7 separate regions of the Homo sapiens genome follow, and all the other regions are linked to region 7. Evidence: fine-mapped expression QTL. A gene starts in region 7. Each other region holds a variant in brackets. All regions are shown on one strand. Distances are from middle to middle. Region 1 overlaps MFN2 (mitofusin 2). Region 2 overlaps PLOD1 (procollagen-lysine,2-oxoglutarate 5-dioxygenase 1). Region 3 overlaps PLOD1 (procollagen-lysine,2-oxoglutarate 5-dioxygenase 1). Region 4 has its middle 20 kb from the start of RNU5E-1. Region 5 overlaps PLOD1 (procollagen-lysine,2-oxoglutarate 5-dioxygenase 1). Region 6 overlaps MFN2 (mitofusin 2). Region 7 holds the start of PLOD1 (procollagen-lysine,2-oxoglutarate 5-dioxygenase 1).

What was found. PIP is the estimated chance that this variant, and not a neighbour inherited with it, causes the effect.
Region 1: its variant is fine-mapped to the expression of PLOD1 in whole blood (INTERVAL, PIP above 0.99).
Region 2: its variant is fine-mapped to the expression of PLOD1 in whole blood (TOPMed, PIP above 0.99).
Region 3: its variant is fine-mapped to the expression of PLOD1 in whole blood (TOPMed, PIP 0.99).
Region 4: its variant is fine-mapped to the expression of PLOD1 in whole blood (INTERVAL, PIP above 0.99).
Region 5: its variant is fine-mapped to the expression of PLOD1 in whole blood (TOPMed, PIP above 0.99).
Region 6: its variant is fine-mapped to the expression of PLOD1 in whole blood (TOPMed, PIP above 0.99). The same link has a PIP of 0.9 or more in T cells, blood mononuclear cells and monocytes.

Annotation. Positions count from the first base shown.
Region 1 is chr1:12,000,029-12,004,088 of GRCh38, reverse strand. It overlaps MFN2 (mitofusin 2), which reads right to left. Exons shown (of 19, transcript NM_014874.4): 9 at 2,535-2,688; 10 at 2,253-2,320; 11 at 1,986-2,107; 12 at 1-97. Among named protein-coding and RNA genes, the nearest start is that of MIIP, 17 kb to the left of the region's middle. RefSeq lists an enhancer at 2,362-3,291. The variant A/C (reference allele first, on the strand shown) is at 1,639.
Region 2 is chr1:11,953,728-11,957,791 of GRCh38, reverse strand. It overlaps PLOD1 (procollagen-lysine,2-oxoglutarate 5-dioxygenase 1), which reads right to left. Exons shown (of 19, transcript NM_000302.4): 6 at 2,899-2,962; 7 at 778-875. Among named protein-coding and RNA genes, the nearest start is that of PLOD1, 21 kb to the right of the region's middle. The variant A/G (reference allele first, on the strand shown) is at 2,362.
Region 3 is chr1:11,965,011-11,969,074 of GRCh38, reverse strand. It overlaps PLOD1 (procollagen-lysine,2-oxoglutarate 5-dioxygenase 1), which reads right to left. Exons shown (of 19, transcript NM_000302.4): 14 at 3,482-3,595; 15 at 2,759-2,824; 16 at 1,984-2,088. Among named protein-coding and RNA genes, the nearest start is that of MFN2, 13 kb to the left of the region's middle. RefSeq lists enhancers at 1,657-2,157, 2,158-2,658. The variant C/T (reference allele first, on the strand shown) is at 1,824.
Region 4 is chr1:11,886,137-11,890,200 of GRCh38, reverse strand. No RefSeq gene overlaps it. Among named protein-coding and RNA genes, the nearest start is that of RNU5E-1, 20 kb to the left of the region's middle. RefSeq lists an enhancer at 768-4,064. The variant G/A (reference allele first, on the strand shown) is at 2,354.
Region 5 is chr1:11,959,022-11,963,085 of GRCh38, reverse strand. PLOD1 (procollagen-lysine,2-oxoglutarate 5-dioxygenase 1) reads right to left here. Exons shown (of 19, transcript NM_000302.4): 10 at 2,319-2,440. Among named protein-coding and RNA genes, the nearest start is that of MFN2, 19 kb to the left of the region's middle. The variant CTT/T (reference allele first, on the strand shown) is at 2,072.
Region 6 is chr1:11,984,218-11,988,281 of GRCh38, reverse strand. All of the region lies in intron 2 of MFN2 (mitofusin 2), which reads right to left. Among named protein-coding and RNA genes, the nearest start is that of MFN2, 5.8 kb to the right of the region's middle. The variant C/T (reference allele first, on the strand shown) is at 2,250.
Region 7 is chr1:11,932,238-11,936,301 of GRCh38, reverse strand. PLOD1 (procollagen-lysine,2-oxoglutarate 5-dioxygenase 1) reads right to left here and starts at 1,585. Exons shown (of 19, transcript NM_000302.4): 1 at 1,447-1,585. The coding sequence starts at 1,522. RefSeq lists a silencer at 1,307-1,776 and enhancers at 953-1,876, 1,997-2,046, 1,877-2,802.

The DNA of each region.
Region 1 (4,060 bases), 68 kb before region 7:
AATTCGCAGCTTATAGTCTTGAGCCAAGAGCTCCAGCTGTTTGTCAATAAATTTCAGTCGGTCTTGCCGCTCTTCACGCATTTCCTCGCAGTAAACCCTGAAAGCAGAGTACTGGTGAGAAATCCATGTTCCTGTCTGACTAAGCAGAGGAGCAAGAGGGGATGCCAGAAATCCCACGCCGCCCTGCCCGCTATCTTGCCTGGCAGGGCTGCACACACGCACCCAGGGGCATGGCCTTCCCCTTCCCAGGTAAGAAGAGGACCCTGCAGCCAACCATGCACTCTTCAGTCTTCGATGTGGGTCAGGTGGTGGGCACAAAACAGGGAGGGCGCTTTAAGGGGGTTTAAACAAATTCTGCCAATTAATATAGGGAAAAAAGCTCAACCTCACTAGTAATCACAGAAATGATTTTTTTTTTTTTTTTGAGATGGAGTTTCACTCTTGTTGCCCAGGCTGGAGTGCAATGGCACGATCTCCACTCACTGCAACCTCCACTTCCTGGGTTCAAGCGATTCTCCTGCTTCAGCCTCCCGAGTAGCTGGGATTACAGGCATGCGCCACCACACCCAGCTAATTTTGTATTTTTAGCAGAGACAGGGTTTCTCCGTGTTGGTCAGGCTGGTCTTGAACTCCTGACCTCAGGTGATCCATCCGCCTTGGCCTCCCAAAGTGTTGGGATTACAGGCGTGAGCCACCATGCCCAGTTGTAAATGAAATTTTTAAAGGCACTATTTTCTACCAAGGCCTGGCAAAAATGACCAGGTCTGAAGTTCTGGTGAGGGCTGATGAAATGGAAGGCCTATGGACAGTACTGGTCATGCAATGAATGGGTACGGCTGTTCTGAAGAGCATCAAGAAAACTGACTAAAACTGGAAACGCGTGTACCCTAAAACAGAATTGCCACACCCCTAGGAACTCACCCCAGGAAGACTCTTAAAAAGGTGCACAAGGGGACACATGAACAAATGTCCACTGCAGTAGGGTTTCCAATAGCAAAAAAAAAATCTAAAATTCCATCCATAGGAAAATGAGGCATATTCACAATGGAATATACTACAGCAGTTCCGATTCATAAACAAACTACACATACTAACAAGGATAGAGGGAAAAACGATGTTGAGAAAGCAAAGCCAGGTACAGTGACAGACAGTGTGATGCCACATCTGTACATCTGAAGCATGTAAAAACCTGACATATTCCTCAGCATTTATGTAAAAAGTACTGTTTGGGTGATAGAACAATGTAAATTCATGATTATGGTGCCTCAGGGCAGAGTGACACTGGGACAAGTGCAAAAGAATCAAAAGGGAACTGAACTTTTTAAAATTTTAACTTAACATAAACAACTGAGAAAGTCAATTCTGTGTGATAGAAGCAAGGTGTTTTCATATTATTCTTTAGTGACAGGGTCTCACTCTGTTGCCCAGGCTGGAGTGCAGTGGTGCGATCACAGCTCACTGGAACCCTGAACTCCTGGGCTCCAGTGATCCTCCTGCCTCAGCCTCCCAAGTAGCTGGAACTACAGGTGTGTGCCACCACACCCAGCTGATTTTTAAAATTCTTGTAGAGATGGGATCTCACTATGTTATCTGGGCTGGACTCCTGGCCTCAAGCAGTCCTCCTGCCTTGGTCTCCCA[A/C]AGTGTTGAGATCACAGGTGTGAGTCACTGCTCCTGGCTGGAATGTTGTTTTGAAAAATGTGTTCAGGCTCTGAGAATGGCTGCAGAGCTCAGCAGGGCATGGGCCAAGACCTCCAACACAGGGAATCGTGCTGCACAGACCAGGTGGGGTGATGAAGCACCCAGCCGCCCTCCTCACCAGGCTGTCTATGTGGTTCTAACATGGTCTGGTGGCCAGGGAAAGGGCTCTGGATGGGAGCCCAGAGACTCAGCCCTGCCATCAAGGCGTGTCCTAACTGCCCAAGGCAGGGGTGGAGCACCCTTGTCTCGGCAGCTCTCTCCACCTATCTGCAGTCTTGGACTCTTACTGCTGCTCCCGAGCCGCCATGTGCAGGGAGTCCATGATGAGTCGAACCGCCTCTGCAATCTGCTTGGCCCGGACCGTGTGCTGCTCAAACTTGGTCTTCACTGCAGACTGGGAGATGCACTCCTGGAACACACAGAGGCACGGAGGGAGGTGGGGGCCACCAGGGGCCTACAACCAAGGGCCAGACTCTGGTTTTCACTGCCAGGGACACAGCCAATGGGAGCTGGGGAGGCACAGAATCGCCAGATACCAGAATCAGAGGACTCACCTCAAATCTCCTCTCAAAATTCTGAAACTCAAACATCCTCACTTGAAAGCCTTCTGCGAGAGCGCCCCCTAGGAGGATTGTACTGCATTAGTCCAGAAACAACTTGGCAGCAGAGGAAAACGATGAAATCCCCAGAAACCAAGCCACTGGCTAAAGAGCAAGAGCCTCTCTGCTCTTCTCAGCATCCCCTTCTCAGAAGGATTTTCTACTGACAGACTCCTCAGCACGAGACAAAATGTCTCAAACATCAGAGAAAAGGAGGACATCTGTTCTCATCATTACCTCCTTCAGGCATGCCCTGGGCTTTCTGAATCCTGGCGTTGAGCACCTCCTTAGCAGACACAAAGAAGATGCGGTCCCCGGCCTGGGATCGATCCACCACGCCCAGCTCATCCACCAGGAAGCTGGTACAACGCTCCATGTGCTGCCGCCGCACCTGGAGCCCAAACAAATGTGTCCAGAGTGAGTGTAGGTGGCCCCACAGCCCCCACCTGCCTCTTTTATTAAAAGAATAGGTCATAAGAGGCTGGGCATGGTGGCTGACGCCTGTAATCCCAGCACTTTGGGAAGCCAAGGCAGGTGGATCACTTGAGGTCGGGAGTTCAAGACCAGCCTGGCCACCATGGTGAAACCCTGTCTCTACTAAAAATACAAAAAAATTAGCCAGGCATGGTGGCAGGCGCCTGTAATCCCAGCTACTCAGGAGGCTGAGGCAGGAGAATCACTTGAACCTGGAGGCGGAGGTTGCAGTGAGCCAAGATAGCACCACTGCACTCCAGCCTGGGCGACAGAGTGAGGGAAAAAAAAGAATAGGCAATATATTCACATGGCTCAACAGCCAAAGGCACAAACACATACACAGTGTAATGTCCCCCACTATTCTGCTCTCTCACCACCAAGTTTCCCAGACCAACGTGTGGGGGTTACTTGGCAGTGAGCGTGCCAAAGATATTTTATGCATATACAAGCAGAAATGCTTAAACGTGCCCTAGACTGCCTCTTGTTAAGCCTATATAGTGCCTCATTTTGGTGCCCTGGCAGGAAAGGAACCCTGAGGTCAAGAAACCTAAATCTGGGACCTATACTCTGACAAGCTGTGTCCTCCTGGGGCATTGTTTATAAAAGGAGTGGGCATCACTAGAACATCCCTCCTGGCTCTGACATCCTGGGGTTCTACCGATAAAATGTGACAATAGCTTCTTGTAGACACCTACCACGTGTCAGGTGTTTTTGACAGATTTCATCCTCTCAACAAGTCTATTTATCACACCATCACACTGGCCAGGAAATTGGATTACCAGAAGGGTCAAGGAAGCTAACAAAGTCACACTGCCTAGTGTCAGTCACAAGCGGGCACAGTGGCTCACGCCCGTAATCCCAGCACTTTGGGAGGCCGAGGCGGGCGGATCACTTAAGGTCAGGAGTTCAAGACCAGCCTGGCCAACATGGTGAAACCCCATCTCTATTAAAAATACAAAAATTAGCCAGGTGTGGTGGCGGGTGCCTGTAATCCCAGCTACTCGGGAGGCTGAGGCAGAATTGCTTGAACCCTGGAGGTGGAGGTTGCAGTGAGCCGAGATTGTGCCACTGCACTCCAGCCTGGGTGACAAGAGCAAAACTCCATCTCGAAAAAAATAAATAATTTGGACTCTGGCCTACTGACTGCAACTGCATGTTTTATCATCCCATATTGCCATATTATCAATCTTATTACCCTTTATTTGTTTAATTATTTTTTGTGAGACGGAATCTCACTCTCTTGCCCAGGCTGGAGTACAGTGGCACAATCTCAGCTCACTGCAAGCTCC
Region 2 (4,064 bases), 21 kb before region 7:
TAGCCCTGACTCACATCTCCCTGGGCCCCCAGTGGGTCAGCACCATCCAGCCCCCTCCCACTCCCTAAGAGGGTCTTGGAGATAATGCTCCATCCCCAGGAGATCACCAAGCCGCTCTGAGAGAGGGCAGGGGAGGGCTTGGCACTCTAGTGCTTCTCCCGAGAGCTTGTAAAATGCAGATTCCTGGGTCCCACCCCGCTCAGAGATTCCATCTGAACAGATCCTGGGTGAAATCAGCAAATTTGCATTTTAAACACATCACATCCTCCTTCCTCTCCCTCATTCCAGCGGTGAAGGACCACACTCAAATATGCTATGAGCTATGAGCCAGTTCCCCAGGGACCAGTGAGGTCCATTCTGTCCCTGGCCGCATCTGCACCCAGTCCCTTCTGTCACCATGAATGCAGGACATCCGTCCTGCTTATGACTATGTCTTACTGTCTGGTGCAAACATGAAATAAAGGTTTACTGAGTGAATAAGTGACTCTGCCCTGGGGTGACAGTGCAGATGGCTCTGGTAGCCCAGCCTAGGCCTGGAAGGGGATGGCAGCCTCCTACGTGTCCTGTGACCAGCAAGAACAGACAGAGTACCACTGACCACCACAGCAGGAAAAGAAGGCATCACGCTGAGCTCAGATGTGAGGACAGAGGCAGTGAGTTCATAGCAGGCCCCAGGAAGGTGGCCCTGGCCCCAGGGAGACACTGTGGGGTCACAGTGAGAATGAAATTAGGGCTCTGGCCCCCTCCCACACTCCCCAGGGGCTGGGGACCCCCTACCTTGGTTGGCCCGTTGCCATGGATCAGGACCGGGAGGGTGTCATAGGCCAGGTTCCTCGCTCTCACATGGCCCATTTCAAACTTGAGCACGACCTCATCTGGGGGTCAGAAAGCACAGTCCCACCCAGCATCAGACCCAGAGGTCAGGCTCAGGGTCCAACCAGCTGGGCTCAAATCCCAGCTGTGCAGTGAGTAGATTATGTCCTCGGGCAAGTCACTTCTCTCTAAGCCTCAGTTTCCTCATCTATAAAATAGGAATAATCCCTTCTTCATGGGGTGAGGGGGAGGATTTGTGTTGAACAAGCGTGGGGCACCAAGCCTGGCCCATCATGAGCACAGAATCCACGGCAACCCCTGTACTTGTTGTGGTTACTTACAGTCAGAAGCAGGGGCTGGGAGAAGAACGAAGACCTGGAACATCCCAGCTCCAGGCACCTCAGAGAAGCCCCAAGAGAAAGGGTCTGGGACGCGCCTTCTCTGAGTAGGCAGAGCAGCACTGAGAAAATGCCAGAGCCACATGCAGGGGAGGCCTGGGCATGATCAGGACAGATCTTGTCCCAGTGGAGGGAGCCCCTGCAGCAGGGTTCCAATACTCATGTTTTTTGTGTGTGTTTTTGTTTTTTGTTTTTTAGAAATGGAGTCTCATTCTATTGCCCAGTGTGGAGTGTAGTGGCATGATCTCGGCTCACTGCAACCTCCGCCTCCCAGGTTCAAGTGATTTTCCTGCCTCAGCCTCCTGAGTAGCTGGGATTACAGGCACATGCCACCACACCCAGCTAATTTTTGTATTTTTAGTAGAGACGGGGTTTCACCATGTTGGTCAGGCTGGTCTTGAACTCATGACCTCTGGTGATCCACCCGCCTTGGCCTCCCAAAGTGCTGGGATTACAGTGCCTGGCCCCCAATACCCATGTTTGACCCTATTAGTCTGCACATAGGAAAATGGGTATTTCAGCTGGGCACGCTGGCGCACACCTGTAATCCCAGCACTTTGGGAGGCCAAGGTGGGAGGATCACTTGAGCCCAGGAGTTTGAGACAAGCCTGCGCAACATAGTGAGACCCTGTCTCTATTTTAAAAATTAAAATAGGGCTGGGCACGATGGCTCACGTCTGTAATCTCAGCACTTTGGGAGGCCAAGGCAGGTGGATCACCTGAGGTCAGGAGTTCGAGACCAGCCTGGCCAACATGGTGAAACCCCATCTCTACTAAAAAAATACAAAAATTAGCCGGGCATGGTGGTGTGCGCCTGTAATCCCAGCTACTTGGGAGGCTGAGGCAGGAGAATCACTTGAACCTGGGAGGCGGAGGTTGCAGTGAGTCGAGAATTCGCCACTGCATTCCAGCCTGGGCGATGGAGCAAGACTCCATCTTAAAAAAGAAGAAAAAAAAAGGAAAACAGATAGCTCCTGACCTGCGTGGATCTGAACTCAGTGCTTCTTAACCCCCAGAAACCACAGGCAAAGGGCATTTTCTGCGTTTCTCTGGGAGCAGAGCCGTAGCTTTCATCAGATTCTCAAAAGGGCCCATTTATCCACAAAATCAGCAATCAGTGGATCCGGTTCACTTCCCTTTTGTAAAGATA[A/G]GAAAACTGAGTCCCCTGTGGGGAGGAGGTGTGACTTGCCTGAGGTCACTCAGGAAGACAGGAAGACCTGCGGCAAAGCAATGTCATCACCAGCCACAGACATGAGGCCAGGCCCAGGGATGTTTGCGGCATCAAGGGTCAAGTAGCCTTTTGCTTCCCAAGCTGCCTGTCCCACCAGCTGAGTTCCTGCCCCTAGCCCAGGACTCCTTCACCTGGAAGGTGGGAGGGCCGGGAAAGTGGGGAAAGAGGGCCCACCTGTAAGGACCTGGTATGCAGGGCAGGGGGTCCAGCACCTGCTGTGCGCATCCCCCAACTCCTCCCAGGCTGAATGCTCACTTGTCCCCCGCCCCCAAGAGAGACATGGCTCTGCGCCAGGATATCCAAGTGGCCCCTGGGGACCTGGGGATGAGGCCAGTGACCTCTCAGCACAATGGCCAGAAAGAAGCAGCCCATTTCTCCTCCCTGGGCTCGGGCCCTGCCTGGAATTCTTCCTATCACCCCTCTGAGGATCCACCCCTCCCCGTGGGGGCTGCTCACCCAAGGCTCCATCCAGGTTCTGGAAGATACGGCAGCGGTGGTCCAGGGTGATATTGATCTGCTCCTGCAGGAAAGAAGGTACCAGACTGCAGCAGGGACAGGCCCTGGGGGAGGCTGGGGCTACATCTCACCCAGTGTGGGGAATCTGTCCCCAAGTTCAGCCCTCATTCCCCACACCGACTCTGCCACGTCACATCAGGGCAGCTAGGTGCCCAGAGAAGGCCAGCAGCCAAGCTCCTGGGGTCTACAGTCTAGTGGCTCTACTCACAGAAAACCAGGGACTCTGAACTGGAAGGAATCTAAGAATGCAGCCGGCTCACCTACAACAATGACGGCCGTTAAGAGTAACCAGCACCTGCCAAGCACTCCACTACACGCACATAGCTACTCCAAATATTCTTTTTTTTGAGAAAGAGTTTCGCTCTTGTCACCCAGGCTGGAGTGCAATGGCACGACCTCGACTCACTGCAACCTCCGCCTCCTGGGTTCAAGCGATTCTCCTGCCTCAGACTCCTGAGTAGCTGGGACTACGGGCATGTGCCACCATACCCAGCTAATTTTTTTTTTTTTTTTTTTTTTTTTTGCTAGAGATGGGATTTCACCACATTGAGCAGGCTGGTCTCGAACTCCTGACCTCAGGTGATCCGCCCCCGCCCCCCGCCTCCCAAAGTGCTGGGATGACAGGTGTGAGCCACCGCACCTGGCCGCTACTCCAAATATTCTACACGAGTCGGGTGCGGTGGCTCACTCCTGTCATTCCAGCACTTTGGGAGGCTGAGGCAGAAGGATCACTTGAGCCCAGGAGTTTGAGACCAGCTTGGGCAACATAGCAAAACTTCATCTCTATAAAAAAATCTTAAAATTAGCCAGACATGGTGACGCAGGCCTATAGTCCCAGCTACTCAGGAGGCTGAGGTGGGAGGATCGCTTGAGTCCGGGAGGCTGAGGCTGCAGTGAGCTATGTTTCTGCCACTGCGCATCAGCCTGGGTGACAGTGAGACCCTGTCTCAAATAAATAAATAAACTATTCTACATATATTAATCAATTTAATCCTGACAACATCTCTGTGAGAAAGTATTATCATTATTGCTTTTTTTTTTGAGATGGAGTCTGGCTCTTGTCACCCAGGCTGCAGTGCAATGGCACAATCTCGGCTCACTGCAAC
Region 3 (4,064 bases), 33 kb before region 7:
CTCCACCTGGGTGACGAGCAAAACTCCGTCTCAAAAAAAAAAAAAAAAAAAAAATTAGGCATGGTGGCCAGCACCTGTAATCCCAGCTACTTGTGAAGCTGAGGCAAGAGAATCACTTGAACTCAGGAGGCAGAGGTTTCAGTGAGCCGAGATCGCACCACTGCACCACTGCACCACTGCACCCCAGCCTGGGCGACAGAGCGAGGCTCCACTTCACCAAAAAAAAAAAAAAAAAGGACGTAGAAAATGAGAGGTGGGGTGCCCGGTGCGGTGGCTCATGCCTGTAATCCCACCACTTTGGGAGGCTGAGGCAGGTGGATCACAACATGAGGTCAGGAGTTCGAGACCAGCCTGACCAAAATGGTGAAACCCATCTCTACTAAATATACAAAAATTAGTCGGGCATGGTGGCAGGCGCCTGTAATCCCAGCTACTCGGGAGGCTGAGGCAAGAGAACTGCTTGAACCTGGGAGGCGGAGGTTGCAGTGAGCTGAGATGGCGCCACTGCACTCCAGCCTGGGCGACACAGCGAGACTCCATTCAAAAAAAAAAAAAAGAAAAAAGAAAATCAGAGGTGGGTTGGGGCTTGAAGTACATAGGAGATATGAATGTTGTAAAACTGTCAGGAGACGAAAAATTCCTTTCTGCAGTTTCTCTTCTGTGAAAGGGCTAAGGACAGAGTTTGCTTAGTAGGTAATGTTGCCTTTAAGTACAGTGGTGTATTTTTATTCAAGATTGTGCTCTTTTATCAAAATCCTATGGAAATAAATGTTCTGGGATCATTAAAATAAAAAAAATAAATAAAATAAAAAGGTGCCTTAGGCCAGACACGGTGGCTCACGCCTGTAATCCCAGCAATTTGGGAGGCCGAGGTGGGTAGCTTACCTGAGGCCAGGAGTTTGAGACCAGCCTGGCCAACATGGTGAAACCCAGTGTCTACTAAAAATACAAAAATTAGCCAGGGATGGTGGCACACGCCTGTAGTCCCAGCTACTGGAGAGGCTGAGGCAAGAAAACTGCTTGAACTTGGGAAAGGAAGGTTGCAGTGAGCTGAGATCATGCCACTGCACTCCAGCCTAGGTGACAGAACGAGACACTGCCTTAAAAAAAAAAAAAAAATTTACACACACACAATTAAATAAATAAAGAATACAAAGATTAGCTGGGCGTGGTGGCACACGTCTATAATCCCAGCTACTCGGCAAGCTGAGGCATGAGAATCTCTTGAACCTGGGAGGCAGAGGTTGCAATGAGCCAAGATTGCGCCACTGTACTCCAGCCTGGGCGACAGAGTGAGACTCGGTCTCTAAATTAATTAATTAATTAATTAATTAAAATAAATAAAATGAAATTGTGCCTGGTTCACAACCAGCCTGGGCAACACAGCCAGACCCCGTCTCTATTATTTAAAAAAAATATATATATATATATATAAATAAAATCTATATATATTTCTTTTTATATATATATATATATACACACACACACACATGAAAAGAAAAAAAAAAATGGTACCTGAACTTTCCAGGACAGGAACAGGTGTTGGGATTCTCACGGAGAGAACACAGGGCCTAGCACCCTCAGCAGGCCACCTGCTCCTGCTGTCTGATGAACTTGGACCCGACAGCCCTTCCTAATGCCCCTCATCCCACCTTGGCCCTTTCCTCCCCAGCTCCACCTGGGGGAAGTCTAGGGAACCAAGCTAAGCCATTCCAATAGCAAACCAGGAACTGAAAACCTAGTAGCTTACGGTCAAGGCAACTCAAAGCCACACGGTGGCAACAGCAGCTCAGGGACCAAACTCCATCTCAGGTTTCTCAATC[C/T]CTCTACTCCTACCTGCCTGCAGATACCCATGCCAGCACCCCTATGTCAAGAGTCCCAGAAAGGGTGGCCAGGCCAGCTTGCCAGAAGACCCCAGACAGTGAGCGGCACTGATGGAGAGGCAGCCTCCCTGCGGCCCCAGCCCAGGCATCAGGGTCCCACCTTGTTGTTGCCCAGAGACCACTGGCCAAAGTGCTCCATCTCCTCCACCAGCTCATCACAGGCCACCTCCGTGAAGATGGGGAACCAATAGACATCCGGGCAGGGCTGGGGAGGGCAGGGACTCAGTCAAGGGGGTCCACAGTGGCACCACAGAATCCTCCTTCCTCTTCAGGGCCACACACCCAAGCCAGGGAGCCCTCCCAGTGTCCCCGGGGAGCAGGGCCTTGTCAATCCTGGAGAGACTGAGTGGGGAGGAGGAGGCAGAGCCCAGAGACAGACTTTCCCAGCCGAGGTCACAGAGCTACCAGCGCCAAGGTCAGACAGAAACATGGGCATGGAGGGAGGGAGGGGGCAGAGGCCCCAGGCTCGGGGGAAGCAGACATTAGTGAGTGGAGAGAAGCAGCCACTCCCCGAAGTGGTCCAGGCATGGTGGGCCACAGTGGCCATCACATCCAGGATGTTTTCCTCCTTCCTGCCTGGGCCAGGTAGAGAGGCCCTGCAGACTCCCACAGCCTCCAGCAGGAAAGTGCCAACAGGTAGAGGGGCCATCCTGCCTCCCCCCACCCCCATCCCACCACCCCCCACTCCCATCCCGCCGCCCCCCCATTCCCATCCCGCCACCCCCAACTCCCATCCTGCCGCCCCCCAACTCCCATCCCTCCACCCCCAACTCCCATCCTGCTGTCCCCCACTCCCCAGGGCAAGCAGTTTCCCTTCTGTGCCCTGCCCCCTGCAGCAGGCAAGGCTGGTCCAAGAGGGTGTCCATGGCCCTTACCGTCTCCACCAGCTTCCCTGCCAGGGCTTTGGTGTAGTTCTGGTGGATGTACTTCTCCTTCCAGTCCTGTGGGAAGTGGGAAGCAGGCTAGGGTCCTCACCATTGGCTCAACTGCCAGGGATGCTCAGAGCAGACCCCTCAAAGTGGGAGTGAAGGTGTACGTGCTTGACAGAGGCAGGTGTTCACCTGCACCCACTGGGTGCGTGTGTGTTGTCTGGGTGCACAGGTGTGCCCATAGGAGGTGGTGTTTGCACATGTATGTACATGTGTGTGCTTGTGTGTATATGTCTGTGTGCAGGCATGTGCTTACACCCATCAGCTGTGAGCTCCCAACGTCTAGAAACAGTTACAACTGTCTCCCCTTCTGATCATCACAACACCCTCATGGGTAAGACAGGCTGGGACAGTATACCCATTTTGGAGCTAAGATAACTAAGGTCCCCAAAGCTGGAAGGCTCAACTAAGTCCCAGATGATGGCAGATCTAGGCCACAAACCCAGGCCTCTTGAGTCCTGGTCCCTCCTCCAATAGATGGTGTTGCCTCTCTGGACACCCTTCTCTCCCTACCCAAATCCTGCCCTATAGCCTCCTGGGGTGAAGGGAGGGTGGCAGGTGGCCTACAGGGGTCCTGGCTGTTGTAAGACTCTGAGAGGGAAGTCCCTCCGACTGCAGGATCACTGGGCCCCTTTGCTCCCAGCCCCTATGTGCCCACCCTGGCCTCACCTCGGGGTTGCTGAACACCTCCCAGAGGTCGTTGTGCAGGTGGGTGGTGCGGTAGCTGTCTAGGGAGAGCAGATGGCCAAGGGTGTGCCGGTTGGTCAGGAACATGAACACATCCTGGGGAGGACAGGCCCGGTGGAAGAGGCGCTCCCCCACCCCTCCCCTGCCCTCACCCCTCCCCTGCACGCTCCCAGACGGGCAACAGTGCAGCCTCCTCCACCCGCCGAACTGAAGTTCCCAATATCAGAGACCAAGTGCAGTCACCGCTATGTCCCCAGGGCCCAGCCCAGGCCTGACACTAAGAATGTGATCAGGGAAGTCTTCCCAGAGGACTGAACACAGAATGAAAGAAAAAATGCGTAAAAGAAAAGGAGCGTGTTCTGGTCCTGAAATGTTGGTCACAGGGGAAAACTTCATCTTGCTGCATGTTTAAAAAAAAAAAAAAAGTCACAAAAATATATGGGGTGGGGCGCAGAGACAGGGTGAGGTGTCTCTCGGGCACATCACTTGGAGTACCTTTAGGTGGAAAGTTCCGTTTTCTTTGGGCTATTCCAAAAATGTAAATAAAATAGATGGTATAAAAACC
Region 4 (4,064 bases), 46 kb after region 7:
ATACCTGGGCTTTCTTGGGCAGGGGTCCCTGCGGCCTTCCGCAGTGCATTGTATCTCTGGTTAATCGAGAATGGAGAATGGCGATGACTTTTACTAAGCATACTGCCTACAAAAACATTTCTAACAAAACACATCCTGCACAGCCCTAAATCCCTTAAACCTTGAGTCCATACAGCACATGTTTTTGTGAGCATAGGGTTGGGACAAGAGTTACAGATTAACAGCATCTCAAAGCAGAACAATTTTTCTTAGTACAGATCAAAATGGAGTTTCTTATGTCTTCCTGTCTCTGCATAGACACACTAACAATATGATCTCTCTTTCTTTTCCCCACAATTTGTCACCTGGCTGGCTTCATTCATTATTTCATTACACCAACCACCCGGCCCCTGTAGGTGTTTGGGTTGGCAACCCCAGCTTTCTTTCTTTCTTTCTTTCTTTCTTTATTTATTTATTTTTCTTTGAGACAGAGTCTAGCTCTGTCACCCAGGCTGGAGTGCAATGACATGATCTCGGCTCATTGCAACCTCCGTCCCCTGGGTTCAAGCGATTCTCATGCCTCAGCCTTCCGTGTAGCTGGGATTACAGTCGTGTGCCACCATACCCGGCTAATTTTCGTTTTTTTTTTTTTTAGTAGAGATAGGGTTTCACCATGTTGGCCAGGCTGGTCTTGGACTCCTGACCTCAAGTGATCTGCCCACTTCAGCCTCCCAAAGTGCTGGGATTACAGGTGTGAACCGCTGTGCCCGGCCCTCGGCATAATTTAAGTGGGAAGCCCAGTGTTATGATGACTGTCTCCGGTCATTCCAAGGCTGGGCACCTGCTTCTGGCTGAGTCTTGACCCCTCTCTTCTTCTTGGTGCGCCCTCTGGCCCTGCATGTGTACCCACCCACCTGGCACTTTCAGAAGAGTGGCTGTGACTCACTTAGACAAAAACTGCATTTTCCTGTCCTGATAGTCGAAAACTGCTTGGATGAGCCTAGACAATTTAGGGATTTGAAGGAGTTTCCCAAGCCCCTAATGTGTTCTTCCCTGGCTGAGTGGAGTGAGCCAGCCCCATGGGGCCCAGTGCCCTGGTCTCCCCACCATCACCTGCACCAGCCGGTCTCTGTCTTCCCCCTCCCCACCCCATCGTGATCAATGGGACAGGCCCTCAGGTTGCAGGGCATGAACCTGAGGGAGGAGCCAGACCTCGGGCCCTGAAGGGAGCTCTGGCCACTCACAGTCCCTCCAGGGAGCCCCTGGGTGTGGGGTTTGGGCTCTGACTGCAGCAGGAGGAGGCCCAGGAAGGACCCACCCTGGCTTTTCTCCTTTCCAGTGTGTCTCTTTCCCAGAAAAATATGGGTCCTAGTGGCCAGTGTCCCTGGGAGCTGTCGAATCAAGCTTCCTGGATACCTGCCACTCGGCCAGCTGGTGGCACCTTTAGAGGGCTTTTCCTGCCGCTGAGAACACGAATCTGTTGGGGAAAAGACTGCTAGATGAGCCCTGCCAGGTCCCGACACACTGCCTGGCTGTTGCCTGGGACCACAGTCTTTGCTCACCTCTTGGCTAAGCTTTAGCCTCCTTCCAGGAATGCTTCCTGGATCTCAGCCCTCTGGAGTTGTGTGTCTTCATCTGCCCCTAGTTTGCTGTGTGACTTCAGGCAAGCGGCACAACCTCTCTGCTCTACTCGCTTAGGATGCCTAGAAGAATCTGAGCAGAGCACTCTGGAAGGGACTGTGACAGAGGCAGTGGAGAAAGGGCTGGTGCAAGGAGAATGTTTATGTGGCAGCACCATGAGTAGCATGAGGCCGAGGGCTGGGAGCCCGATTTCCTGTGTTCGACTTCCAGTTCTAGGCTGGGCACGGTGGCTCACACCTGTAATCCCAGTACTTTGGTAGGCCGAGGCGGATGGATCACCTGAGGTCAGGAGTTTGAGACCAACCTGGCCAACGCGGTGAAACTCCATCTCTACTGAAAATATAAAAATTAGCCAGGTGTGTTGGTGCATGCCTGTAATCCCAGCTACTTGGGAGGCTGAGGCAGGAGAATCAATCTCTTGAACCCGGGAGGCGGAGGTTGCAGTGAGCAGAGATCGTGCCACTGTACTGCATCCTGGGTGACAGAGCAAGACCCCATCTCAAAAAACAAACAAACAAAAACAAAAAACCCACCAAATTCCGGTTCCATCGCTTGGCAGCTCCATGACCTTGGGGACAATTATAGCACCTACTGCATAGGATGGCTGAGAGGATTAAACAAAATTATGCAAGAGATGCACTTGGCACCATTGAAATGTTCAGGAAAGGCCATTGTTAGGATTGGTACCTGAACAGCATGGAACCTGCCAAAGGAAGAGAGGAGCTCCCGGGGC[G/A]CAGGTGTCAGCTCACCCACGATTCCTACAGGTGGAGCTGCGGCTATGAAGCCTTGATTTCCAGGGGTTGGGGACCTGGATTTGAGTCACTTTCGTTTGTGCCACGCCTGAGCATGGCAGACCCCCAGGGAGGAGTTGGGAGTGGGCTCTCGCAGGACCCCTGCCATGGTGGGTGCTGTGAGCTGCCCTCCCAGAGGTGAGTTCTCTGGGTCCTGCCACACAAAACACATGGCAGGGGCGTGGATCCCTACACCCAAACCCATACAAGGCCTTGGACCTGTGCTCACCAACTCAGATCACGGGGATGCAGGGGGTTCACCTTCTCCAAGGAAGGGCCAGGGACACAAGAGAAAACAGGGAGCTATTTTGAGAAGGTGTCAAGGCTGGGACACTAAAATTAGAGGCTTGGTTCCTAAAAAGACATTGGCGCCAACCGAGGCCTTGAAGAGGGGCTCTTCAGCACGGAATGTGACCCCAGGAAGCACGCTCACAATTCTGGACAATGAGGTCAGCCTGCAGGGCGCATGGGACCGCCCAATGGCCGGTGGGCATGGGCACCTCTCCCCCCGCCAGCCCCACCTGCAGAATGCTGGAACTGGCTCCAACCGCTTCCCGTCTGCACTGAGCCAGCGCAAGGGCGAGCGGACAGAGCCTCATGTTCCCGGTGCTGCTGCCCTTCCAGGCTGCCTTCCTTTTTTGACTGTCCTTTTGGCTTCTTATGCTTTTGGCTCCATTCTGGATGTGCGTCATGGGGTGGGATGCAGAAGCAGCAGCCAGCTTGGAGGCTGGTGTTCCCGGAGGCTGAGGGCGGGATGGGGGGAAATATGAACCAGGAAAGGGCCTGGTATCCCCAGCCCAGATGGGCCTAGGCTGCTGTCCCCCAGGGACAGAGAAGCTCAAGACTTTCTTTTTTTCTTTTTTTTTAGGCAGAGTCTTGCTGTGTCTCCCAGGCTGGAGTGCAGTGGCACGATCTCAGCTCACTGTAACCCCCATCTCCCAGGTTCAAGCGATTCTCTGCCTCAGCCTCCTGAGTAGTTGGTATTATAGGCATGCGCCACCACACCCCACTAATTTTTTGGATTTTTTAGTAGAGATGGGGTTTCGCCATGTTGGCCAGACTGGTCTCGAACTCCTGACCCCAAGTGATCTGCCTGCCTTGGCCTCCCAAAGTACTGGGATTACAGGTGTGAGCCACTGTGCCCAGCCCAAGACTTTCTTTCTTTGTCTCCTCCTCTGGCCTCAGAGGAAGCTGGGGAAGTCCTTACAGAGCCGACTTCCTGGGGTGAGGCGCCAAAGGGCTCTTAGTCCCGCTGCTCGGAGATGGAGGCGACCCCTCTCCCTCCTCTCAGGGCCCCGGCCTGGAGTCCAAGGCTTCATCATTTGCCTTTCCTCTTAGCCCAAGGTGTTTTCCCTGGAGAGGGAGGGTGGCAAATTTGATCCTGTCCCCACACTCCTGTTTAAATTCCCTTAGCGACTGCTCATGGCCCTGGGATGGGGTCTGAATTTATCACCGTCCAGAAGGCCCCACAAATTCCAGCCCTGCCCAGCTCTCACTCCAAGCCCTAGACCCGTGACCATCTCTCCTGTTTTCCAACACACCAAGTTCACACCCTCTCCTCCTCGCCCAGCTGAGTCCCACTTACTCAATGTAATGTGAGACAATGGAAATGTCCCTTCCCTAGAGAGGCCTGCCCAGGCCAGGACATTAGGC
Region 5 (4,064 bases), 27 kb before region 7:
CTTTATGTTTTTCTTTTTTTTATTTTTATTTTATTTTATTTTTTTGAGAACGAGTCTCACTCTGTTGCCCAGGCTGGAATGCAATGGCACAATCTCAGCTCACTGCAACCTCCACCTCCCGGGTTCAAGCGATTCTCCTGCCTCTGCCTCCCAAGTAGCTGGGATTAGAGGCGTGCACCACCATGCCAGGCTAATTTTTGTATTTTTAGTAGAGACAGGGTTTTACCATGTTGGCCAGGCTGGTCTCGAACTCCTGACTTCAGGTGATCTGCCCGCCTCGGCCTCCCAAAGTGCTGGGATTACAGATGCGAGCCACTGCACCCGGCCTTTTTTCCTTTTTTAGAGATGGGGGTCTCACTGTGTCAGCCAAGCTGGAATGCACAATCATAGCTCACTGCAGCCTCAACTTCCCCAGCTCAAGCAATCCTTGGCCTCCCAAAGTGCTGGGATTACAGCCACTGCACTTGGCTGATTTTATGTTTTTAAGTTGTTTCAAGAAAAAAACAAATCGGCAGGGCGTGGTGGCTCACGCCTGTAATCCCAGCACTTTGGGAGGCTGAGGTGGATGGATCACGAGGTCAGGAGATCGAGACCATCCTGGCTAACACGGTGAAACCCCGTCTCTACTAAAAATACAAAAAATTAGCCGGGCATGGTGGTGGGCACCTGTAGTCACAGCTACTCGGGAGGCTAAGACAGGAGAATGGCGTGAACGTGGGAGGCAGAGCTTGCAGTGAGCCAATATTGCACCATTGCACTCCAGCCTGGGTGACAGAGCGAGACTCCATCTCAAAAAAAAAAAAAAAAAAAAGAAAACAAAAATCAAAAGAAGATGTAAAAATTATGTGAAGGTCATCACCAGGTGCAGTGGCTCATGCCTGTAATCCCAGCACTCTGGGAGGCTGAGACGGGAGGATAACTTCAAGCCAGGAGTTTGAGACCAGCCTGGGCAACATAGCAAGATCCTGTCTCTACAAAAAATAAAAATAAATAAATTAACCAGGCGCAGTGGCTCACACCTGTAATCCCAGCACTTAGGGAGGCCAAGGCGGGCGGATCACTTGAGTTCGGGAGCTTGAGACAGGCCTGGAAAACATGGTGAAACCTCGTCTCTACTAAAAATACAAAAATTAGCCAGGTGTGGTGGCAAGCACCTGTAATCCCATCTACTTGAGAGGCTGAGGCAAGAGAATGGCTTGAACCTGGGACGGGGAGGTTGCAGTGAGCCGAGATCGCGCCACTGCGCTCCAGCCTGAGTGACGGAGTGAGACTCAGTCTCTAAATAAATAAATAAATAAATATTTAAAAATTAACTGGATGTGATGGCACATGCCTGTAGTCCCAGCTTCTTGGGGGGCTGAGGCAGGAGGATCACTTGAACCCAGGGGTTTGAGGCTACAGTAAGCTATGATCCTGCCACTGCACTCCAGCCTGGATGACAAGAGTGACACCAAGTCTCAAAAAGAAAAAAAAATAAATGACATGAAAGTCAAATTTCAGTGTCCATAAATGAAATTTTGCTGGAATGCAGCCTCTGTGCTACTAGGGCAGAGCTGAGGGTTGTCACAGAGCCGGCAGAGCCAATTTGCAAAGATTTATGATCTAATCCTTAGCAGGAAGTTTGCCAACCTTTGATCTGGACTGTCTGACTCTTCTACAAGCAACACAAATTACTTCTTTCTTTGTTTTTGTTTTGCTTTATGAGACAAGGTCTCGCTCTGTTTCCCAGGCTGGAACACAGTGGTGCAATCATAGCTCATGCAACCTCGACTTCCCGGGCTCAAGAGGTCCTCCTGCCTCAGCTTCTTCAGTAGCTGGGACCCCAGGTTCAAGCCACCACACTTGGCTATTTTTTTTTAATTTTTGAAGAGATAGGGTCTCGCTATGTTGCCCAGGCTGCTCTTGAACTCCTGGCCTCAAGCAATCCTTCAACTTTGGCCTCTCAAAGTGCAGGGATTACAGGCATGAGCCACTGCTCTCGGCCTTTTTTTTTTATATATAATAAAGTAAAACATTCAAGGTTGGCTCCCTAATAGTCAGCCTTTGTCTACTTTTGCCCCCAGTCCTTCCT[CTT/T]TCTCTGATTTGCTTCCTGAACCCAAATAACATGGCTCAGCCCTGCCCAGGAGCCCCGGGGGTTGGCAGGACAGAGGCTATTTCCCCTTTTGACAGATGGAAACTCCAAGGCCCAGAAAGGGGCAGGAACTTGCTAGAGCACACACAGCCTTCTGAACTCCTGTCACTCAGCCTGCTGCTCCTTACCACAGCCACAGCTCCCCTGCCCCCACTGTCAGTGGAGAGTACTGTGGCCCACAACTCACGCGCCCATGTTCCTGGCATCTGCATTCGCCATCCGCACCTCAGGGCCCACCAGCTTCACAGACTGGTACTCGCTGCCATGCTGTGCCAGGAACTCTTCCACCTGAGCCTTGTGGTGCTGCTCCTGGGGTTGGGGATGGGGAAGGGGATGCGGGGGTGAGGAGGAGGACACAGCTTCCACCCAGGGACTGTAGCACCTCCTGTCACTGCCAGGCTGTGCCCCTTCATCTCTGGCACCCCGGCCATCTGCTTTCCTGTCTCCAGACCTTTGCCCATGCCAGCCCTGTGCCAGGAACACCCTTCCCTGGCCATCCTTTGCCCATTCTCCTCTGACCAGGTCAGGCCTCCTAAGAGCCTCTGTCATCAGGATAGAGCTCCGCCACCACGCTCAGGATCCCACATCCAGAGACATTGTTGATTCCTGGGTGTGGCCCAGAGATCCACTTTGTTACAAAATGTGCCAGGTGATCCTCAACTTCGCTTTGAAAAACAACAGTCCAGGCCAGGCACAGTGGCTCACGCCTGTATTCGCAGCACTTTGGGAGGCCGAGGCGGGTAGATCACCAGGTCAGGAGTTCAAGACTAGCCTGGCCAAGATGGTGAAACCACGTCTCTACTAAAAATACAAAAATTAGCCGGGCATGGTGGCAGGCACTTGTAATTCCAGGTACTCGGGAGGAGGCTGAGGCAGAGAACTGCTTGAACCCGGGAGGCGGAGGTTGCAGAGGCAGAGAACTGCTTGAACTTGGGAGGCGGAGGTTGCAGTGAGCCAAGATCGCACCATTGCACTCTAGCCTGGGAGACACAGCAAGACTCCATCTCAAAAAAAAAAAAAAAAGGAAAAACAACCATCCAGCTGGGTGCGGTGGCTCATGGCTGTAATCGCAGCACTTTGGCAGGCGGAGGCAGGCAGATCACGAGGTCAGGAGATCGAGACCATCCTGGCCAACATAGTGAAACCCTATCTCTACTAAAATACAAAAAATTAGCCAGGCACGGTGGCAGGCGCCTGTAATCCCAGCTACTCGGGAGGCTGAGGCAGGAGAATGGCTTGAACCTGGGAGGCAGAGGTTGCACTGAGCTGAGATCACGCCATTGCACTCCAGCCTGGGCAACAGAGCAAGACTCCGTCTCAAAAAAAAAAAAAAAAATACAAAAAATTAGCCAGTTGTGATGGCGCATGCCTGTAGTCTCAGTTACTTGGGAGGCTGAGGCAGGAGAATCGCTTGAACCCAAGAGGCAGAGGTTGCAGTGAGCCGAGATCGTGCCACTGCACTCCAGCCTGGGTGACACAGCGAGACTCTGTCTCAAAAAAAAAAAAAAAGAAAAGAAAACCAATTTGACTGCCACCAGGTACAATTAGGAAGGTAGGAAGGATTAACAGTGACAGGGATGGAAGTGAAGATGACAACAGTTAGAAGCAACTAGATGCGTCCTGTGCACCAGGCACCTTTTACGAACTTCGCATGTCAGCTTGCTTAGCCCTTGCAGCAATTCTGTGTGATTGCACAATTATTATCCCTATTTTATTTTATTTATTTATTTATTTATTTTTATTTTTTTTGAGACGGAGTTTTGCTCTTGTTGTCCAGGCTGGAGTGCAATGGCGCAATCTCGGCTCACTGCAACCTCTGCCTCCCAGGTTCAAGCGATTCTCCTGCCTCAGCCTCCTGAGTAGCTGGGATTACAGGCATCTGCCACCACACCCAGCTTAATTTTGTATTTTTAGTAGAGGCAGGGTTTCACCA
Region 6 (4,064 bases), 52 kb before region 7:
AATACAAAAAAATATAGCCGGGTGTGGTGGTGGCCGCCTATAATCCCAGCTACTTGGGAGGCTGAGGCAGAGAATTGCTTGAACCTGGGAGGCGGAGGTTGCAGTGAGCCGAGATCGCACCACTGTACTCCAGCCTGGGTGACAGAGCCAGACCAAGTCTCAACAAAGAAAAACACACACACACACACACACACACAAAAACTATTGGTCTATTTTAGTATAGCACAGGTGTGCTACAGAAAATTTGGAAACTGAAGGGGAAAAAAACCCATAACCCCATCATTTTGTGATAAGCAATGTTAACATTTTATTTACTTATTTATTTTTTATTTTGAGACAAGATCTCGCTGTTACCTGGGCTGGAGTGCAGTGGCGCAATCACAGCTCACTGCAGCCTCAACCTCTTGGGTCCAAGCAATCCTCCCACCTCAGCCTCCTGAGTACATGAGACCACAGGCATGCACCACCACGCCCCACTAATTTTTTTAAAATTTTTTGTAGAGACAGGGTCTTCTTATGTTGCCCAGGCTGCTCCCAAACTCTTGGGCTCCAATGATCCTCTCACTTTGGATTCCCAAAGTGTTGGGATTAAAGTGCTGGGATTAAAGGCGTGAGCCACCATGCCCAGCCAACATTTTTTTTTTTTTTTTCTGAGACAGAGTCTTGCTCTATCGCTCAGGCTGGAGTGCTGTGGCATGATCTCGGCTCACTGCAACCACCACCTCCCGAGTTCAAGCTATTCTCCTGCCTCAGCCTCCCAAGCAACTGGGACTACAGGCACTCGCCACCATGCCCGGCTAATTTTTGTATTTTCAGTAGAGGTGGGGTTTCACCATGTTGGCCAGGTAGGTCTTGAACTCCTGACCTCAAATGATCCACCCACCTTGTCCTCCGAAAGTGCTGGGATTACAGGCATGAGCCACCACGCCCGGCCCAACATTTTGTTTATTATAATTTTTTTTTTTTTTTTGAGACAGAGTCTCACTTTTGTCACCCAGGCTGGGTGCAGTGGTGCAATCTCAGCTCACTACAACCTCCACCTCCCAGGTTCAAGCGATCCTCCTGCCTCACTCAGCCTCCTGAGTAGCTTGGAGTACGGGCATGTACCACCACACCCAGCTAATTTTTTTATTTTTCGTAGACAGGGCTTCACCATGTTGGCCAGGCTGGTCTCAAACTCCTGACCTCAAGTGATCCATCTGCTTCGGCCTCCCGAAGTGCTGGGAATACAGGCGTGAGCCACCGTACCCAGCCATATTATCACAGTCTATTTTTGTGTGACTGTCTCTCTTGCTCTCACTCAATCCTACATATCTTTGTAGCTTATCTTTTCATATAACAACATTTTAGAGGTCATGAGACTTGACTCCAAAGTCCTAGAGGTCTTTGGTCAAAGGTCAAAAGAGGCTGGGCATGGTGGCTCACACCTATAATCCCTGCACTTTGGGAGGCCCAGGCGGGTGGATCACTTGAGACCAGCCTGGCCAACATGGTGAAACCCCTTCTCTGCTAAAAATACAAAAATTAGCCAGGCATGGTGGCAGGCACCTGTAATCCCAGCTACTCGGGAGGCTGAGGCACGAGAATTGCTTGAACCTGGGAGCTGGAAGTTGCAGTGAGCTAAGATCGCGCCATTGCACTCCAGCCTGAGCAATAGAGCAAGACTCCATCTCAAAAAAAAAAAAAAAAAGATCAAAAAGAGGCGTACACACCAGAAGGAGTGCCCAGGGTAAGACTGGGAATTCCGACCCCAAAAGTGGACCCCTGCCAGGTCCCTCAGAGTTCCCACCACGGCGAAAGCTACTTCTTGAGCAGAGCCCACCAATCCCAGGAAGTCAAAGGGCAAAGGCCCTCCTGGATGAGGGGGTGTGTGCACAGCTGACTGTGCCTGGGTCTGTCACTGCCTCCCCAGCCACCCTAATCTTACTGCTCAGTTCTCCACCCAGCAGTAAGCTCACTCTCTCTAGATTGGAAATGAGGTGTTGCTCCCCAGCAAGCACACGTGAAAAACTTCCAAATGGGGCCAAAGTATGTTGCACAAGGTCCTGAAAAGCAGAAAGAACACCCGGAAGAGGTACATGAAGACCAAATGCCAAAACGGACTTTTAGTAACTAACCATCCCAAAGAGTGGGCAGAAGACAGACCGACCCAAAGCGGGATAGGGACCCACATGTGTGCCCAAACCAACAAGTTCTTGTGCAATGTTAATGATTCCTCTGGAGACAAGGGAAGGAAGTGACCCCACTTC[C/T]GTTTCTACATTCCTCCTCAGCATGACGCCACAGCTATGAGAGATGTTTTCTCAGCATGGAAGCCATATGTCCAGGGCTTAAAGACAGTACAGCTCTGAGAAAGGAAACTGCAAAGAAAATGCTACTCTCACTCTTCCAAAGCAGCAAAGGAGAGTGCGCTGAAATGAGGCTTGCCATGGCCTGGCAGATCAGACTGTTCGAGAAAGAGGGGATGTGGCAGGCACAAGAGGAAAGCCATCCAAAAGGAATAGAAAAGGGATCAGGGGTCAGGCACGGTGGCTCATGCCTGTAATCCCAGCACTTTGGGAGGCCGAGGCAGGCAGCTCACCTGAGGTCAGGAGTTCAAGACCAGTCTAGCCAACATGGTGAAACCCCGTCTCTATGAAAAATACAAAAAATTAGCTGGGTGTGGTGGCGCATGCCTGTAGTCCCAGCTACTCCAGAGGCCAAGGCAGGAGAATCACTTGAACCTGGGAGGTAGAATTTGCAGTGAGCCAAGATCTCGCCACTGTACTCCAGCCTGGGTGACAGAGCGAAGTCTCTCTCTTTAAAAAAAAAAAAAAAAAAAAAAAAAAAGGGATCAAGGATGGGGCATGATATAGCACTACCTATGACAGGTTTTGTAATCAGGCAGAGCTGGGTTCAAATTGTGACTACATTATTTCTGGGCTGCTTAAACTTAAGCAAGTTATTTCATCACAGAACCTTGGTTTCTTCATGTGTACAACAAACAAGACACCTACTGGAGAGAGAAACTGTCTCAAATTATCTTTTTTCTCTACTCTCACACCATAATCATCAACACAAGAGACTTCTGTGACCAAATGTGAGGGGGTTTCTTCCCCACACACCAACCAGCGGACAGCAGCTGGGTATCCTCTCATTCAGTTCCCATGCTGTCTACCTGGAGAGAGTGTCAGATCCCACAGGTTGAGGGCTCAGTCCCCAGGACTGCCCCGCCTCTCCACCACCACCCCTCAAACATACCAGTTGCAAGTCTGGGCCTCCAGAATTTCTCACCGACTGGCTTCAGGCTGGGGTTCCCATGACCCCCTCTTTGAGTTCAATTAATTTGATGGAGCAGCCTACCTAGCCCAGGGAAACACTTACTTACGTTTACCAGGTTATTATGAGGGATATCGCAAAGGATACAGATAAGGAGACGCTTAGGGCGAGGTATGGGGGAAGAGGCGTGTAGTTTCTGTGCCCTCCCTGAGCAGGCCTCTCTCTAGGAACCTCCGTGTGTTCAGCTATCCACAAGCTCCCTGAACTCTGTCCTCTTGGATTTTTATGGAAGCTTCATGACATCAGCATTCCTTCCCCCAGGATACAGGGTCCACCCCTCTCAGGGGAGGGTTTTAAGGCCCACAATCAGGTGGGGAAAGATTAGGGTGGAAGGAGAGCAGAAGGTCAGAGGCCTGCCCCTGAGGCCTAACACATCTAACATTATATCAAAAAACCATAACAAGGGCTGTGGATAGGAGTTATGAGCCTGGATCCGTGGATGAAAACCAATATCCTAATACCACAATACCATCTAAACTGTGAGAAGACTAAAGTTGATGACGCAAGCAACATGCTTCACTACAGTAAGAGCTAAAGGCAGCTTTACATGTTATAAAACAATAACAACAAACTCTACCAGCAAGATCACAAGACTCTCTCCATGAACACCCAGCCTTCAGGGAGGGCAGAGGCAACTCCGCCAACTCACACCACACACACCACTCCCTTACCCGCTATCACGGAGATCAAATAAACAGGTCAGCTGGGGAAGGATCAGCGATACCCCACTCCAGAAGTGACTTGCTGCA
Region 7 (4,064 bases):
CACCCACTCAGGACAGTGGGGCACACACTGCAATCCAATCTGCCTTGAGGAAGTAGAAAGAGCGCTAGACTGGAGCCCAGCTGACCTCGGACCAACCACCTCTGTCTGGACCACCCTGGACAGTCACTTCACCTGTCTGGGCCTCAGTTTCCTCAAGTATAAACTGCAGAGAGGGCCAGGTGTGGTGGCTCACGCCTGTAATCCCAACACTTTGGGAGACCAAGGTGGGCTGATCACCTGAGGTCAAGAGTTCAAGACCAGCCTGGCCAACATGGTGAAACCCCATCTCCACCAAAAATACAAAAATTAGCTGGGCATGGTGGCACATGTCTGTGATCCCACCTACCTGGGAGGCTGAGGTACAGGAGTCGCTTGAACCGGCCGGGCGCGATGGCTCACGCCTGTAATCCAAACATTTTGGGAGGCTGAGGCCAGCGGATCAAGAGGTCAGAAGTTCAAGACCAGCCTGGCCAGCATGGTGAAACCCCATCTCAACTAAAAATACAAAAATTAGCTAGGCATGGTGGCACGTGCCTGTAATCCCAGCTACTTGGGAGGCCGAGGCAGGAGAAACACTTGAACCTGGGAGGTGGAGGTTGCAGTGAGCTGAGATTGTGCCACTGCATTCCAGCCTGGGCGACAGAGCGAGACTCCATCTCAAAAAAAAAAAAAAGAATTGCTTTTACCTGGGAGGCAGAGGTTGCAGTAAGCCGAGATCGCATACTGCGTTCCAGCCTGGGCGACAGAGCAAGACTCTGTCTCAAAAATAAATAAATAACTAAATAAATAATACATTAAGTAAAATAAAAAAAATAAACTGCAGAGAGGAAGACCACCCTGGCAGGGGCTAAGCAGACCACAGGGGACATGGATGAAAGCACAAACTTATCCACAAAGTGAGCCACACCTTCTACCCCCATTCCTCCCCTGTCCCCCTCAAGACCCCTCATTCCCATGGTCATGAGGCCTCCTGGCTCTGGAACCAGACACCTGGGTGGGTGGGGTAAATCCTGGTTCCAAGGCCCACAAGTTGTATGATCTTGGGCAAGTGAATGAACTCTGGAGCCTCAGTTTGCCCAGCTGGAAAACGGGGATAATAGAAGGAAACACTTACCAGGGTAGCAATCATGCCTAACTGATGCCTGGCCCATAGTGAGCACTGGGCAGAATAGCCATTGTCGGTTATTATTATGAAAACTATTATTATTTGAGCCTTTCTGTGCTGAATGGGACTCAGCTGTCACCCTTTCCTTCCCGAAGCAGGAACCGCAGCCCCAAGAGGGGAAGTGATTTGTTCAAGTCACCAGCGATTAAGTGGACAAGGAGCCGGAACCCAGACTCCCTCTCCAGCCCAGGCCTCCCATTCAGGTCGTTCCCAGGGAGGCAGCCCGACACCAGCCCTCCCGCCCGGATCCGCGCTCCCGCCCCCGGCCTTCGCTCCCTCACCCTCCGGCTTGGCGTCGCCCTTCGCTTCGGCCAGCAGCAGCCAGCCCAGCAGGGCCAGTAGCAGCAGGGGCCGCATGGCCGAGGTATGGGGGACGATCGGCCGACCCGGCGGCGCTCGCAGGGCTGGAAACTTCGCGACGGGGCCGCAGGTCCCGCTGCCACGCACTGGGCCCGCCCCGGGGGCGGCACCACCCCGCCCCTCCACGCCCTCCCCCGCGCCTGCCTAGTGGGGAAGGGTTTTTCTGCAGATATGCCCAAGTCCGGGCCTCTCCTTATTAGGGCAGCTCCCTCCGCCTCTCTGTGCAGCTCCCGGGGCTTCCGTCAGGCCCTGCCGTCTCCCTCCCTTCTCTGGGGGGTTCACTCCGACCAGAAAGAGGGCGGTGAGAGGAGAGAGAGGCCACGATTTCTAGACCCCAGGTTCTGGGCCAAGGCTCCATGGCATCGATAGCCACGAGCCCCTGTTTGCTCGCCTGAAAAGTGGGGCTTATGATAGCGTCTGTTCATTGGGTCTTGCACGGGTTAATGGCGTTACCTGTAGCGCACTTAGAGCAGCCCCAGGTCAAGCCCCAAGGAAGTCAGTTTTCATGATTTCATTAGTCCTTCCCAAAACCCAAGGGGTGAGGGTGGGCACGGATGCGTTCAGAGACACGGACACCCCTACGTGGCCCACCCAGGCACTGGAAATGCAGGAAGCCCGTCTCCACTCTCCCCAAAAGGCAATCACTTGATCTCCCTTTGTGTCCCTGGGAGGCAAACCTCTGAGCCAAGGAAAGTCTTGCTTCTGAGGTTTTTTTGTTTTTTGTTTTTTTTTTTTCATTTTTTTGAGACAAGGTTGCTTTCAGTTGCCCAGGCTGGAGTGCAGTGGCGTGATCACCGCTTGCTGCAGCCTCGACCTCCCGGGCTCAAGCGATCCTCCCATCTCAGCCTCCCAAGTAGGTGGGATCACAGGCCTGAGCCACCATCCCTGGCTAATTTTTCTACCTTTTTTTTGAGACAGAGTTTCACTCTTGTTGCCCAGGCTGGAGTGCAACGGCGAGATCTGGGGTCACGGCAACCTCCGCCTCCCGGGTTCAAGCAATTCTCCTGCCTCAGCCTCCCGAGTAGCTGGGATTACAGGCATGTGCCACCATGCCCAGCTAATTTTGTATTTTTAGTAGAGGTGGGGTTTCTCCATGTTGGTCAGGCTGGTCTTGAACTCCCACCCTCAGATGATCCACCCGCCTTGGCCTCCCAAAGTGCTGGGATTACAGGCTGAGCCACCACACCCTAGAGAGATTAATTGTTAAATGAGTAAACGAATCGATGAAAGTTTTTAGGGCCTCTTCACAGATACCCAAAGCCCAACAAACAACTCAACGGTCTCTAGAGTAAGGGCTCCTGGACCAGATGTCAGACAGGGGCAGCCACCTCTGAACAAAAATCCTTCCTTCCTTGGAAGAAACCTCAGACAGAGGCCGGGCACGGTGGCTCACACCTGTAATCCCAGCACTTTGGGAGGCTGAGGCGAGCGGATCACAAGGTCAGGAGTTCAAGACCAGCTTGACCAACATGGTGAAACTCTGTCTCTACTAAAATACAAAAATTAGCCAGGCGTGGTGGCGCGCGCCTGTAATCCCAGCTACTCAGGAGGCTGAGGCAGTAGAATCACTTGAACCCAGGAGACTGAGTTTGCAGTGAGCCAAGATTGAACCACTGCACTCCAGCCTAGGCGACAGAGCGAAACTCTGTCTCAAAAAAAAAAAAAAAGAAAAAAAAGACCTTAGACAGGGACCCAGGAGCCTTCTCCCAGCTGATTAGGCTCCAGAGGAGTGGGTGGCAGGTGTAACCCTAGGCTGGCAGGGGGTTCCCTGCAGGGGGCAAAGGGGTGGGAGAGAAGGAATGTCACGAATGTCAATGGACGACAAAGAGCAGGCTATGCGTCTGTGCTGGGAAAAGATATTAATAAATCAACAGCATTCAGATGAGCTGGGTGCGGTGGTTCATGCCTGTAATCCCAGTACTTTGGGAGGCCAAGACAGCCAGATTGCTTGAGCCCAGGAATTCAAGACCAGCCTGGGCAACATGGTGAAACCCCTTCTTTACTAAAAAAACAAAAATTAGCTGGGCATGGTGGCATGTGCCTGTAGTCCCAGCTATTCAGGAGGCTGACTGGGGAGGATCACTTGAGCCCGGGAGGTGGAGGTTGCAGTGAGCCATGATCACACCGCTGCACTCCAGCCTGGGCAAGAGAGTCAGAACCTGCCTCAAAAAAAACAAACAAACCAAAAAATAAAAATAAAAACAAAATAGCATTCAGATGCTGCAGCCAGAGAAATACACTACCCATATGATGTTAAGTGGAAAAGCAGAATATATAGTATGGTTCCACTCAGTAAAAATACCTTCTTTTTTTTTTTTTTTGAGATGGAGTCTCACTGTATAGCCCAGGTTGGAGTGCAGTGGCACAATCTCAGCTCACTGCAACCTCCGCCTCCCTGGTTCAAGCAATTCTTTGCCTCAGCCTTCCGAGTAGCTGGGATTACAGGTGCCTGCCACCATGCCTGGCTCATTTTTGTATTTTTAGTAGAGATGAGGTTTCACCATCTTGGCCAGGCTGGTCTTGAACTCCTGACCTCGTG